2 linked regions of the Homo sapiens genome follow. The protein of the gene in region 1 purifies or fractionates together with the protein of each later gene. This does not show direct contact. Each region holds a gene or a part of one and is shown on either strand. Other genes may lie near its edges.

The links.
Region 2: the proteins of CDS1 (region 1) and TSPAN6 purify together in Homo sapiens (affinity purification with mass spectrometry; 2 studies listed by BioGRID and IntAct, with this or other methods). This does not show direct contact.

Annotation. Positions count from the first base shown.
Region 1 is NC_000004.12:84,578,368-84,586,187, forward strand, and holds the start of CDS1 (phosphatidate cytidylyltransferase 1), read left to right. Parts: upstream 1-4,759; 5' UTR 4,760-5,034; coding exon 5,035-5,151; intron 5,152-7,820. UniProt on the Homo sapiens protein: Catalyzes the conversion of phosphatidic acid (PA) to CDP-diacylglycerol (CDP-DAG), an essential intermediate in the synthesis of phosphatidylglycerol, cardiolipin and phosphatidylinositol.
Region 2 is NC_000023.11:100,633,807-100,641,747, reverse strand, and holds the start of TSPAN6 (tetraspanin-6), read left to right. Parts: upstream 1-4,941; 5' UTR 4,942-5,053; coding exon 5,054-5,140; exon of another isoform or gene 5,141-5,557; intron 5,558-6,001; coding exon 6,002-6,190; intron 6,191-6,495; coding exon 6,496-6,570; intron 6,571-7,718; coding exon 7,719-7,817; intron 7,818-7,941.

The DNA.
Region 1 (7,820 bases):
TCATTAATTGTACTACCTCAGAAGGATAAGGCACAAATTAACTAATTGGGTAGGCTGATTTCTTTGTACTTGTTTGCAAAGTCTCTCTACCCCATTTCATAATTTCTACCTACCTCACCAAAGCAATATCAGCATATCCTTATTTCTTCACAGTCCTCTGGGGTGTTGCAGTTTAGCGAATTTAGAAGTCAAATATTGTTCTCCTCAAGAAATGTAGCTTTCAATAATATGAATGATAGTAATAAGTAACACTTGTGTGGTGCTTCACGATGGCCAGACACTATTCTAAGTATTTTACATATATTAACCAGTTTAGTCTTCATAAGAATCCTAGGAAGAAAATATTACCTTATCCTAATTTTGCACAAGGACACTGAAGCTAATTGCCTAAGGCCAGTAGGTGGCAGAGCTGGGATTTGAACTCAGGCTAGCTTCAGAATTTATGTGCCTGTTATAACAAACTAACCCCCACCCCCAGCTTTAGAAGTTGCTTGTTTCTGCTGCTATATATTTGTACTACATCATGGACCAGGCAGATTTTGAAGTATAAAACTTAATATAAGTTTTATACTTATACTAAGTATAAAAACTTAGCTTTCCTTTCTAACCCTTTACATCTAAGCCTCAGGTTTTCTTCCTTGTAAAACAGGAGTAATATTTGTTATGCCTAGCTTGTAGATTGTTGAGTAGAAGAAATGAAATAATGCATGCGAAAGTGCTTTGTAAAGTGTTATGTAAAGAATTATTACTTAAATTATGAAGGAACATGTCATTTAGGATATAGCTTCAGCTGTGTTTGATGAAAATGTTGCTGAAAGCAAATTAGGTCACAGCTAGATTCAAGCTATGATTCAAGCTAGGTTCAAGCTATGACTCAAACCCAGGGTTCTTGGTATAGAAACTCCATACTTCTAACTACACCATAGCACTCTCTCCTCTGATACTCTCTCACTACAATACTTGATAGTACACCATTATTTTCCCGTGCAATTCCATTAAAAATAAAAATGTAAATATAAGTTGTTTTTCAAGATTTTCCCATAAAATGTTTCTCTGGTGGCCTAAATCAGAAATTCCTACCTCTAACTTATAAACAAAGCTGACAGAGGGCAACAGAGAAAGATAGGTCAAGCGACAAAAGCTGTTACTTGGGTATCTAAGCAACTGGAAACGCTTGGCTGAGGAAGATTTCTTCCGCCCCTGGCAAGCTGGGGACATTCCAGCAGGGCACCTTTGAGCCTCTGATGTGAAAAGCAGCTCAGATTCACATTCCCACCCCAGAGGGGCATGTTTATCAGTCTGGGAACATTCTGAGGGTATTCAGGGAAGAGTGGTAACAAACTGCTTCATCTACTCTCACTACTTCAGGCAACGTCTCTGCATCTTATGCTCTTATTACTTCCAGCAAAAGAGAAGGTAAACAGTAATCTAAAATAAAAACCATATAAGCAATAACGTTAGCACTCTCTCTCATCTCTCTAGCAAATTCCTCATTAGGAGTTAGAAGGTGAAAAAAAATTTTTTTTAAAATTTTTTTTTTAATTTTTTTGAGATAGGGTCTCACTCTGTCACCCAGGCTAGAGTGCAGTAGAGTGAACAGGGGTCACAGAGGCCTCGAACTCCCAGGCCCAAGCAATCCACCCGCCTCAGCTTTCCAAGTAGCTGGGACTACAGGCACACGCCACCATGCCCAGCTAATTTTTAAATTTTTGTGTAGAGATGGGGTCTCCATATGTTGCCCAGGCTGGTCTTGAACTTCTGGGCTCAAGAGACATTCATGCATCAGCCTCCTAAAGTGCTGGAATTACAGATGTGAGCCACCACGCCCGGCTGGAAAATCTTAAAATCAATCCAAGAAGTGCTGGCTGGGTTGTACTACGTGATTAGGCCCATGCATATGCTTAGGGTTTCCATGAAGCCCTTCAGCAGGATAAATACAAGAAAAATTAACAGGTAAAGCCTTAGAAACCATTACACGCCAGATTTTGTGTTACCAAACACAAATACAATAAATTTAGAGAACATAAGTTCCCTGAATGAAAACGAAAGATAAAAATAAAAAAGAAAGAAAAAGGAAAAATTAGAAAAAAGACATAGAAAAAGTCTGAGAACACAGAGTTCCGTAAGCCAGTTGTGGTTGAGTATATTGTACAGTATCTTAAGTAAAATAAAGTCATTACTACAACCACTTTTAATAAGTATTAAAATCAACTTCTCTCTGATATAAAGTGAAAATGAAGAAAAGTGTCTATGTAAGTCTAAAATAGACTTTAAATGAAGAAACCATAAATACTATACATTCATGGGTTGCATAACAATGTTTCAGTCAACAATGGACCACATATACCACTGTAGCCTATAAGATTATAATACCATATTTTTATAGTACCTTTTCTATGTTTAGATACACAAATACTTACCATTGTGTTACAGTTGTCTAAGTAATAGGCTATACCATGTAGCCTGGGTGTGCAGTAGGCTATGCCATCTAGGTTTAGTATACCCTGTGATGTTGCCCAATGATGCATTTCTAAGAATGTATCCCCACTGTTAAACAACATATGACTGTATAAATTTCCCTTGTTGTGCTATACCTTTGCCATCCCATCATTTCTTCATTCACCTCTTCAGCAAACATTGTTACCTATAGAAGGGTGGTTTTTGGCACTGTGGAAAGAGCTAGACCTGTAAAGATGAATAAGCCAGTTTCTGCTGTCTGGACTCAGTCTATTCACTCAACTAGTGGTAATAGCTATAATGAAGAAGATTGAAAGAAATTGCTCTCTTAGCTAAAACACAAGAAGGAGCAGAGCTTAAGGAAGGTGAGGTAAGTAGAACCTCACATTCTATTTTGGCAGTCTTTGCATTGGTCCCACTTTTCCTGGGTTGGGGAATACTGTTTCTTCTATCACGCACTACTGTCCTCTGTTGTTCCCCTCTGTCACTCCTCTCACTCTCTTTTTTCCTCCTGCAGCAAAGGGAAAAAGTCAAAGAGGCCATGAGAGGACTAGGCAAAGGGGAAACAGGAAGTTGTTCAGGTACCTTGTGTAGTAGGTCTCCTTTTCTTGGACCATGGGGGAAAGCAAAGGCTGGATTCTGATCGTCTAAGAGCTAAAAGGGACCACAGAGGCCATCCTTACTATCCGTTTACAGCTGAGGACACTGAGGGTTAATAACTTACCAAGGCCATGCAATTAGTGGCATTGGCAGCACTAGAACTCAGGCTTCTTGACTTCCAGAGAGTTAGAATGGAGCACTTCTAATCCTTTATGCAGGGTAGGGTAGTAGCCAGAGATGGAAACCCTACTACTGGCTTCAGCCATTATTCTGATTATCTTCTTCACTATCAAGCACTCCTTCATTTCCGATCCTCCAAACAATTGGACAATTTATTAATGTAGTCACCCCATAGTTCTCTGTTCAGTAGGGACTTATTTTCAAATCTTCTCTGTCATTTCAGTTATCCACCCCATAAGGAACAAATTATGGTTTCTCGACATCCTTTTGAAAACGTGCAACCCAAACTAACCGCACAGCTTCAAAGATCTGTTTGGTGAGGTAAAATGATGTCTTTGTGTTCTGCTTTTCAATGCATCCTAATTTGACTTTTGGTTTTGCTCATTTGTTAGTAAATTTTCAACACTTTACTTACTTTTACCGTGTCAGTAAAGACCTTGAGGAATTTACATAGTTGATCTATTTCTATAAGGGTGCTCTCCTGAACCTTGTCCTGTGTGAAGGCCCGCCTTTTTTCTTTTTTCTCTTTGTTTCTCTCTTTTTTTCATTTGTTAGCTTGTCAGTAATGACCGGGTGGCGGATACATGTCAAGAAAACTAATCACCTTCTAACAGGATTAAGACTAGAATTAATGCAGATCTTGTGCCCTTCCTGTTCCCGCTTTGGCAGCCCAAGGTCCACCACTGCTCAGAGACTAGCTGGAGGGCAACGGCGTCCCATAGCATCTCACACTGTGTTGGGATCCTAGGTGGTGACCTTTGTGAGATTCAGTACTGAGTTTCTGGGAGACGGCGCTGCGGTTGTGATCGGAATTGTTGGCCGACGCACCTCTGGACGCCCAGTGAGGCAAAAGCATCTCCTGTTTTCAAGGTGATGACACTGGGCTGGAATGCCGCGGGGCCAACCAGTCCGTCCTGCCAGACAAGTTTCTGGTCCAGTGAGCCTCCGACCCGCCGCGCGTGTCAAGCTGACAAGGCCGGGGAGGCGTTTGAAGCAGCAGTGTTGAGCGCTGTTAACATTTAGCGGGCGTCTTTGAGTAGCTCCTCCAGCCCTCGCAGCGGCCCAGGGACTAGCCTGCAAGTTCTCAACGCTCACTTCCAGCCCGCGCTGGCCCCGCCTCCGCCTCCCAGCTCCTCAGCCTCCTCCCGCCCCACCGCTCCCACCTTTTCTCAGGCCCCCACCTGCCAGCACGCAGAGGCGGGGGCGGGGTCGCGGGCCGGGCTCCTGACGTCACCTCACGGGGAGGCGGGGCTGTGGGAACCGCAGTGCAGCGCAGAGGGGCGGGGCCTGCGGCGCGAGACCTGGTGCGGGAGGCCCGGGCAGGGAGAAGTGTGCGGGGCCGGGACAAGCCGGCTCCGAGTCCGGCTCCGGGGGGCGGGGCGGGAGGGGCCTGCGCGGCGGCGGGAGCCCAGAGCCGCGCTAAAGCGGGTCAAGCGTCCTCCTTTTCTCCCCGCCCCTTCTCCTCCTCCTACCTGGGCCTCTGCGTGGAGACGCGCACCTGGCAACCGGAGGCCGCGTCTCCGCCTTCTCTGCTCGCGCCTGGCGCCCGGAGCCTGCCCGGGACCTCCGCCGGAGCCGCGCTCGCTGCAGGCGGCCTCGAGCGCTCTCTCGTTGATGCCGTTTTGGAGGTGACCGGCGCGGCGGCCGCTCTATGGTGGGGCCGCGTTAGTGGCTGCGGCTCCGCGGGACTCCAGGGCGCGGCTGCGAGGTGGCGGGGCGCCCCGCCTGCAGAACCCTGCTTGCAGCTCAGGTTTCGGGGTGCTTGAGGAGGCCGCCACGGCAGCGCGGGAGCGGAAGATGTTGGAGCTGAGGCACCGGGGAAGCTGCCCCGGCCCCAGGGAAGCGGTGTCGCCGCCACACCGCGAGGGAGAGGCGGCCGGCGGCGACCACGAAACCGAGAGCACCAGCGACAAAGTAAGTGGAGCCGAGAGAGGCGGACGCCGCGCCCTGGCTGGGTCCTGGTTGGAAGCGGGACACTTGAGAGCAAGGGTGGGGCCCGTCCAGCGTCAGGTGAGGCTGCACGCTGCCGGTGCACCTTCCTCCCTGCCTGGCACTGCTTCCTCCTTCTCCAGAGGGGGTCGGGACCCGGGATCCCAGTGGCGGTGAGGTTCCCAGGATGACCGCGGCCGCTGCCCGGGAGAAATGGGCCACTCAACCCGGCTTACAGTTTAGCTTCATCCTCTTCCGGTCCCTTCTTCAGGATCTGGGGCCGACGCTGGAATCAGGAGGGAACCTGTCCTCCTAGGGGCTGCAGTGCAGTTAGTAGCTGCCACCTCACCTCTCTTTTCAGTAGAGGGAACAAAGTTAGTAAGGACTAGAGACGTGCCACCGTCGGCTGTATCATTTCATCGGATCCTGACGCGGGAGGCTTGGCTTCTCGCGCTGCCCCATATGCACTTACATTTTCTCCATCCTTTTTCAGTATGATAGATTTTGGAGGTTTTAGAGTATCATGCACGTGACATAATAGTAATCTTCCAGCTTCTTTTGAGTACACGACAGACAGTGCAATTCTTCTGTCTACCAGTAGATTTCATATAACCCGACGTTAATTCATGAAGACTTTTCACTTCCTTTTCTATAGATTACTCTTCTTTCACATTTAAGAATAAGTAGATGCGATATTACTATCTGTTTAAAGCTAGAAAAGGAATTCGGGCGTGTTTGGTAATATAGTGGTGCAAGTAAGAACTTGTGAAGAAATGCAGTTTTATGATCTTATGGACTGGATGGTTTGGGAAATTGGACCAGAGAATAGATTGTTGTATCAAACCGTCTGTTTAGAAAATTCCATTTTATTTGAGAAACCCAAAACACGTAAACTGTTTCTAGAAGCATACTTTGGAAGCAGGCATTGCAGTTTGAATTACAGAAGTGAGGTGGATTGCCCAAGGTCAAGTTCGTGGCTCTTGAAACTAGAATCTAAGTTTCCTGATTCCTTTTCTTCTGGTTTATGTGGTTGCTGAGACTGGCTGGCAGTTCTGATTTGGGGAGGATTCCACCTGAAAGTTGATGTTGATGAGTTTGATGTAACCCAAATTACAAAGCCCTAATAGGAACATATCACATGATATCACGAAATAAACGTAAACGTGATTCTTAGTACTAAAACTTTAGAATCAATGGAATCAATGTAGTGACACTTTTCCCCTTACCCTTGATAGTAAGTAGAATAAAATGAGTCTGTAATAAAACATAAGTGTCAAGGAATTACCCAAAATATAACAATTTCCAGCTACTGAAGGTTGAAGTTACAAAACTAGGAACAGTGGGCTGAGAATAGTCTTTGTGAAAACTGCCTTGGAAACTAGACCCAAAATAGAATTAATTAGGTTGGGATTTGTTTTGTTTTGTTTTTAGCACTGGTATAGTTTAGCATCAAGGAAATACCAGCTTCTCTATGCTGACTTCCTTAACTCGACAAAGCTAACAAGCTTTTGTTAAGAGAAAAGATGTTCAGGAAGCCATGCATAAAATACCTTCGGAATTAAGTTTTTTCTTTTTTTAACACCATAATGTATTTAAAATGGAAACTACTTCTGTAGTGTGATTTGACTCATTAGAACTGTTGTCTCTAGCTATCTGTGACTAGGTTACCTCGCTGCATATTTATTTATTTATCAATGCAGTACTGTTGGTTTTTATTGACACATGTCCAGCTGGATTTTGTTTTCTGAAAGTAGACTTTGCTATATGTAACCTGTTTTGTCAAGATTTCTTAGACAAGGATGAACATATTCAAACCATATCTAAAATACTGCTCTACTTTTAGAGTTTATCATGAGGAACTTTTGACTTGGCAAGCTGATAGATATTGAACTCTATCCCTGTCTGTCCTTTCTTATCAGGGTGTGTATTTGAATACACCTGTATTTCCAGGTCAAGGGCTATTTTAAAATCAGTTTGCACACTGGAGGCTGGTTAATATTTGGTCAATTCAAACTCATTAAGGGCCTTCCCTGTTCAGTTGCAGTAAAGGCAAAACTCTTGGGGAATTAGTGAAAGAAGTGAAGGAGGTACATTATATTCTGCTATTATAATACACTCCCATGCATTGCCATTTTGTAGTCTTTTAATAATGGTGTTATTAACATGACACTCCCTTTGTTCCGGACTGGTGACTTATGCTGAGAGAAGGCTCTGTACTCCAGATAATTAGCAAGTGAAAAAAATACTTCTTACCTGCAGAGGAATGTTCCCAAGTGTTAAATGTTGGAGTGGTACTTGAAAAATGACAAGGGACATCTTCAAGGAACCCTGCAGGAGACATATATGAGTTAGATTTATTGGAAGTCTGTACAAGGCTCATTGTTAGCATAGAGGGCATGCTTGGCGTCTACCTGGAGACTGTAGGAAAAGCTCTAAACAGTGGATGAGGATTGAGCTGGGAATGAAAAGATTCCTGGGACTCACCAGGTTTACAAGGGTTTGGGTAGGGTGTTCTAGGCAAAGGACGTGTTGGGTTTTTTCTTGAATCAGCATTCTAGGCACAGGGTTGCAGATACAGAGGAAGAGATAATGAAGGTCCTGAGAGCAAAAGGAGGAGGCATTGCTTAGAGCAGTGGTCCCCAAATTTTTTGGCA
Region 2 (7,941 bases), on another chromosome or scaffold:
TCCTACTAGACTATGAGTGCTTATAAGGGCAAGAACCTTATCCTAGTCTTCTTCATATCCCCAGCCATCCAACACAAAGCCTAGCACATGCCAGGGTGAAGATGCTGCGTAAGGCCTCAATCCCACTGAAAGCTGGAAGCAGTGGGACAGAAGGGTTCCAGAGAGAGGTTAAAGAAGAAAGTGAAGGGGGAGAATATGGAAATCATAGGGAGATCAAAGTAAGGGGATATGTCAGAAGAGAGAGACAGCATTCTTGCAAAGCATTGGGATTAATAATATAAAGAGCTCACCCAAAACAAGTGAGGTTAATTATAATAACCCCAATGTTTCTGCAGCACATACTCAGTGTGTAAAACACAACGTTAGATACTGTGAGGCTACAAAGTAAAATAAAACACCTCTCTTTATGGTTTGGTTGGGAGGATAAGACAAAGGTGGATAAGGAGACTGACAGCATCCAGGCATACTCAATTTCTTAAGTTTCTTAAAGTTCAGTACCATTTTCAACTTTAAGACTTTTAATATGAAGCCCCTCAGCAGTAAATAAGGTATTGTTTTACGAAATATTAGATATGGAAACTGACTTCCCTAGTTGAGATCTCAGGAAAGCTCAACAAGGCTAGACTAGAAACAACTTTCTTAGAAAATGGACATAGAATTGTCAATTTTAATACCATTTAAAAGTATTTATGGCTGGGCGCGGAGGCTCACGCCTGTAATCCCAGCACTTTGGGAGGCCGAGGCAGGCGAATCACAAGGTCAGGAGATCGAGACCATCCTGTCTAACACGGTGAAACCCCGTCTCTACTAAAAATACAAAAAATTAGCCGGGCGTGGTATCGGGCACCTGTAGTCCCAGCTACTCGGGAAGCTGAGACCAGAGAATGGCATGAACCCGGGAGGTGGAGCTTGCAGTGAGCCGAGATGGCACCACTGCACTCCAGCCTGGGCGACAGAGCGAGACTCCGTCTCAAAAAAAAAAAAAGTATTTATCATGTCTATGTGTCCCAAACTGTATATTATGAGCTTTTTTGAAGAAGGCAAGATCAGGGATGGAAAGGGAGGAAAGGTTTCACAGAGCATCTGAAAGGAGTGGATGGAAAACAAGGGCATAAAAATAGACAAAGAATAGAATTTCAGAGAAGGAGAATGGGAATGCACAAGAGACAATAGAAATAAAGAGATATTCCATTAACGAAATGGATTTTTAAAACTGTACATATGAATTAACTGTTTAAATAATGAGGTATCTGATGGCTGTAACATAAAATATGAGATATTAAGAAAATAAGTAGGATGCGCCTTTAAATTCTATGATAGGCACTTAGCCAAAGGTAATTGAAGGGATGCTAGAAAAGGGATTAGAAAATGAAAATGGTAAAGTTATTATGTGAATAAGAGATAAGATGTACACTCAGCGATACAGTTTATTATTATTATTATTGTTGTTGTTATTATTTTAGTGGTTCCTGAGAGAGAGAGGAATGTCCCAAGACATTATCTAGGTACTCAATTTAATTTTTTCTGTTTTATTATAGTGTGATACTGGGATGGCTTAGACATTTAATTTTTTATTTAATTTCAACAATCAATCCTGAGTAATTACTATGTGGTTGCTCCCAGAGACCAGTTATGACCTCAATGAGCAATCAGCTCAACAGGGATTGGCCGAGCAGAAAATGAACTCATCAATTGGGCATTATGTCCTAGGGTACTGAGGAGAGTATAAAAGGGGGCATAGGGGCCCTGCCACACTAGCTCTTCAGTAGTTTCTGAACATCTAGACGGTAGGATGTAGAATAGGTAAGTAGAAATGCAAAGCAGATATTGCAGTAATTGACTAAAGGGCTGGGTTAATGGGAGTGAGTGTGTAGTTAAGACAGTTATGGTGTTAGAGAAAGAGGTGAGGAAGGAGGGACTTTTTACTGAGTTGGGATTGAACTGGATATTCAGTAGAAGCAGAAAGTATGAGTGAAGTTGAGGGTGGGCAGGGACTAGGGAATAGGACTTGTTTAATTGGGGGGTTGATCATACTGACCTGGTACAGAGCAGAAAATTCACATTGGAAAAGCAGTAGGAAATCAGTTGAGATTGTATTGGGATGAGGGGCTTGGTAGGGATGGAGGGAGGCTGGAGGTGGCACAAGGGAGGTCTGACTTAACAGTGAGCCCTTGTTTATGTCATTTCCCTTGCCTGATGTCTAGCAATGAAAAACATTTACACCTAATCTTGAAGGTTACAGGAAATTAATTGGGAAGGGGGGCTACTAAATGTTCCATGTAAAACAAGCAGTAACAATACTTAAAGTATTTTCCTTTTTTCCTACATTGTTGGCATCAAATTGTGTTTCTGTGCTCAGAAAGAGGGAGAAATTAAGAGGTTGAACAAGAAAAAGTACTGAACTCTCTGCCTTACCACTCTGGGGCAGGTAGGGTTACTTCCTAGGTGGCTGGGCTATTGGAGTGAAGGCAAAAGCCAAACTCAACCAAAAAACCCCAAGTGCAAGGCAGAATTGGGGCAATCATTGAGGTTCTTAAGCTTCAGAGGCTCCGAGGAGTCCTTGTTTTAGGTTAAATGTCTGTGCAACAGCAGTCTTTACTCAGGTTACTCTGCGCAGAGGCAGCTGTACGTACAACAGCAGCTATGTTTCATCACAAAGTGGGCCCCATTTCTGATGAAAGACACAGAAGTTGCCCAGGTTTAGTCCTAGGCAGCTTACTTGGTCTCTTTCAACCTGTTTCTTCATCTGTAAAATGAAGGTGCTAGGTGTGTCAACCTCATAATAGGGTTCTTGTGATGTGTGCATACGAGGTAATGTGTATCAAGCTCTTAGCAATAGTGGTTGGTATACAGTCAATACTTATTATCACAGTCATTATTAATACTTTAAAGAATACATTTATCTAGTGGCCTAGGGAAATACTTCTTAAATTGCCTTAAACGGGATTAGATGCCCCTTTGGTCTGGGTTTGTACCCAAACCCAGGCCTAGGTTTGAACTAAATTGAATTTCTCGGTTTGGTGGCATTGTGGGGGTGGGGAGATGGAAGTGGGTGTAGCAGAGTAGGAGGCAATGGTGCAAGGTGTTGTAGCCATAGGAATATGAATTTCCATGTCAGCATTTGGTTTAATTTGGCACCGAGTGTTATTCAAACAAAGCAGCGTTGTGAGTGGTAGAGGAAGGGAGAGGAGGAAAGTCAACACATTCTTGGAAATAAGATGTGGCTTTTGCTTTGCTATTTTGTTTTTTCTTCAGCTACAGACATATTTCTTTGCTCTTGGGCTCACACTGTAAATCCCTTTCAGTACATATCTAAGTTTCAGAGAAACTTCTCTTTAAGATGACAAGAAGTTATCAAGACTTCCCTTGATCCTTGTTTTTAGTATAAGAACCCTTCAGTTGGGGTCATTTAGCCTAGGGAGAAATCTTTGCATATACTTAGACACCCCCCTCCACCATGTTGAATATTTGGTATTTCCTAACGACTTTACCTCAAAGTGTTTGAAGGTGTATGTAGATGTATCGTTTATCCATTCTCTCCATGTATTTGTGTATTAGGCCTTTCAAATTTTAGTAAAAATTTTAGTATAAAGCCTGGCAATGCAATAATTAATTTTCCAACAGTTGCTGCCTTGCACCTCAGACGTCTGGCAAGATGTTATAGGAACTGGTCCTAGGTCAATATTCGAAGCACAGGGAAGCTCTGTGTGACCAAGTCAATGGAACTTTCCTGTGTTCTGGTCCTGAGGTGTATGTTTAAAGCAACGTTTCAAGCAGAAAAGTTTGAGTATTCATCTCTCCTCCACAAATGCAGGTCTTTTTGCAATGGCAATAGAGTAAATAGCCACTTGTGATATTAAGCTTGTGTCAATGATGAAGGGTTGGATTGCATAGGGAACTGATACAGCCTTCTAACCCCGTTCCTCTAGAGATAACACAAACTCACTTAACACTCAGTCTCTGCCTTCAAAGAGCTGACGCTTTAGTTGAGAAATCAGACCTTAACGCACCTCCTGTGTTGTAACAACATAGACCAATATATTCACAATATATAACATTAGGTTTTAATCTCTCTGTAATCAGCTGGGTTTTGATGGGAAAAACCAGGTGGCTGGAATGTACAGTGCCTTTCTGTTTTAACATTTAAGAGGAGGTCACACTCACCAGGGATTTTTCCATTGCACTCTCTCTTTTTAAAAGTTTACAGCGAATAGCTGAACTTACATTTCACTATTATGTAAAAATACTTTCCCTCAACTTTCCAATTACTTAGGGGATAAAAAAGGAGAGGAATACTGGGGTTTTGCAAAGTCCTGCAGGTAAATTCTAAAGTCATTATTATCTTTAATACCTAGCTTAGAAATTCTTTCAACAAGTGGTGATTATTTTCCTCCATTCACATCTCCCCTTCCTAACCCATAAAACAATGTTCACAAATTGAAAAGCACACAAGTGAGAAAAAAATCAGCCTAATTCCACCAGAGGTAAATTTCACTGTTCCTTTCAGTTTTTGTCTAAGCACACGTGACTGTATGTATTGCTTTGCAATCCGCTTTCTTTTTGCAAATATATTTCTTGTGGGTATTTTCCCATGTATTTTCTTAGGTCGCTTTTAACCTCTTCATTCTTTTCCTTCTCTCTAGGGCACCAGGGGCCAGGGAGGCCCAATCTCAGAGCGCTGCGGGCTCTGCTGGTGATAGAAACAATATGGTGAAGTTATAAGGAGAGGGGAGGGGTGGGGGGCGGGAAAGATTCCTTAGGATAGAAAAAAAACAATGAAGAAAGCTCCACTTGAAGACCTATGAAATTTCCGACACTAGAACCTTTGTATATAGTTTTCGGTAACCTTCGGCAGGGGGCGCTCTGAAATTGTTGCCACTTTCCGGACAGCCTCCCATACTTTACCCTCTACAAAATTGTACAGTGTTTCCGGCCCTTCTCAGTTGTGGACGCTCGTAAGTTTTCGGCAGTTTCCGGGGAGACTCGGGGACTCCGCGTCTCGCTCTCTGTGTTCCAATCGCCCGGTGCGGTGGTGCAGGGTCTCGGGCTAGTCATGGCGTCCCCGTCTCGGAGACTGCAGACTAAACCAGTCATTACTTGTTTCAAGAGCGTTCTGCTAATCTACACTTTTATTTTCTGGGTGAGAGACGAAGGCGCCTGGGGCCGGCAGGGGATCCCGGGCTTTTAGTTGTGGGGGGTGTGACCCTGAGCGGCGGGAGCTCAGGTCGGGAACGGTGTGGGGTTTGGGCGGCCATCGCGCCTGGGACCCCGACGCCGGCGACCAGTGACTGGGCCCCGAACAAAGAGCTCAGGCATCTCGCCGGCGCTGGGGTCGGAGTGCGGGACGAAGGCAGCCGAGAGGCTGAGCTGGGACCCAGACGTACCAGCGTTCGAGTTCGATACGGGAGGCGAGGTGGGGCCTTAAGCCCCCAGAGCACGCAGACGGTGACCCTGGACCTTTGCAAAGGCAAGCAAGGCTTGCCCGGCCCCTTTGAGGGCTCACTTGCATAATAGTGTCTTTCTTTTCACTGCTTCGTAAGAGAGGAGTGTTTCGCAGGTAAGTATGGTATGCCTCCACTCCCGCCAGTCTATCCTTGGGCTTGCTTTTGTGTACCAGTCCTTTGTACCCTGTGCCCATCCCTACCTGGAGAGGACGGGGGAAGTTTCTGGAACTCATAAAATCACGTTTTTTTTTTCCCCTTCAAGGTTTTCTTCCTAAGGTTGGAGTAAGATAGTTAAGGAAGTTTTGATCCCTAGGGCAAATATGCCATGGGCTTGTGTTTACACACAAAAAGATGAATTTTAAGAATTTTGATAAGATACCTGGTCCACAGCCTGCTCTTGTGTGCAGATCCCCCCCTAACCCCTTCTACTCTTCCCCCTTGTCTGCCGTATCCCAGCATATTACACCTATTGTGCCTTAAATACCTCATGCGTTGTGATTTGAAGATGCTGCTGTACACAGTGCGTAACTGTTTGTATTCTCTGAATTCCCACATAGATCACTGGCGTTATCCTTCTTGCAGTTGGCATTTGGGGCAAGGTGAGCCTGGAGAATTACTTTTCTCTTTTAAATGAGAAGGCCACCAATGTCCCCTTCGTGCTCATTGCTACTGGTACCGTCATTATTCTTTTGGGCACCTTTGGTTGTTTTGCTACCTGCCGAGCTTCTGCATGGATGCTAAAACTGGTGAGTCCTTGTTTTCATTAGAATTGATTCTTGGTTTTAGAAAAGTTTTGTATGTTATAGAATTCCTTTGTTGGAACTGGCCATGGCCCTTTACAATTTTTCCTGTTCCTTATGGAAACTTATCAAGTAACAGTTCAGCTGCCAGTTTCCACTTTCAAAATAGACATGTTGTTATTTTCCCTGCCCTTTTCAATGAAAACATGATGAACTAATTGAGAAGACGACCATTATTTTTTCTTTGACTCCCTTTGCAGTTGTGCTATATCTTATTTATGCTGACTTGGACTTTCTTTCTTATCCTGCAGTATGCAATGTTTCTGACTCTCGTTTTTTTGGTCGAACTGGTCGCTGCCATCGTAGGATTTGTTTTCAGACATGAGGTAAGCCTGAATTAGGGAAGCTTAGCATGTTACATTTATCCTCTGAGAGATAAAAATGGATTTATTAAAGTAGAAGAGTCAGACCTCTGTATTTAAACCTGTAGCTGACAATAATGGCCTTCTTGTAAAAATTCTGGTCCACTTCTAATTTAAAAGAAAATTTAGAAAATTGTAAAGACTGATAGTCACCAGAAGAAAATTACTTACTTATATTCCCTGTCGTTTTTCTGTGTATAAATACCTATTAAAACGGAGATAGTACAATTTATAACTTTGCTGATAGGAAAATATTCAAAGCACAAAATTGATAACCTTCTTATGCCTTGCATTTTGAAAAGATTGGATATACTTAATGCAAATCATCAGAAGTTTAATATTGGGCCGGGCGCGTTGGCTCACGCCTGTAATCCCAGCACTTTGGGAGGCCGAGGCAGGTGGATCACGAGGTCAGGGGATCGAGACCACCCTGGCTAACACGGTGAAACTGTCTCTACTAAAAATACAAAAAAAAACAAAAAATTAGCCGGGCGTGGTGGTAGGTGCCTGTAGTCCCAGCTGCTCGGGAGGCTGAGGCAGGAGAATGGCATGAACCCGGGAGATGGAGCTTGCAGTGAGCCGAGATCGCGCCACTGCACTGCAGCCTGGGCAGCAGAGCGAGACTCCATCTCAAAAAAAAAAAGCTTAATACTGAATTAGAAAACAGGTAAACTTGGGGTTGTTCAAATAACATTCGGTGAGTAGCAAAGGCTCATTAATGAGAGTTCTCATAAAGTGGTAGCACAGCCTCCCAAAGTAAGGTTTTGTAGCTTACAAATTCCATAGGCATCGAATTTGAACTCAGTTTAAAGTGGAGAAAAATTAGCAGGGTGCAGAATACAGCAATACTGCATTGCCACTCAGATAAATACATATTCCCACAGCACTTTGAACTTGTAGTGGTTCTCATCATATATTTTAATGTTTTGCTTAGTAGTCCCCTCAGCTAACCTATACCCCTTAGAGGACAGGACTGTACCATGGAAGTTAATTACTATACATGTTGCTGCTGTCAAAGATATGACCATTGGTCAGATTCGAGAACTTATTTGACCTGAAACCAAAAACTTTCTAGAGGATTTTCTTACTGACATTGTGTTTCTTTGCTATAGATTAAGAACAGCTTTAAGAATAATTATGAGAAGGCTTTGAAGCAGTATAACTCTACAGGAGATTATAGAAGCCATGCAGTAGACAAGATCCAAAATACGGTAAGTGGTAACCACCACCTAGAGGGGAACACATTCCCTGTTGCCTCAGAGAAAAGAGCAGAGTCTGGCTACTAGATGTTATCCACCTGTAGGGGAAAGAAGTGTGACGTGTTTCATTTTCCTC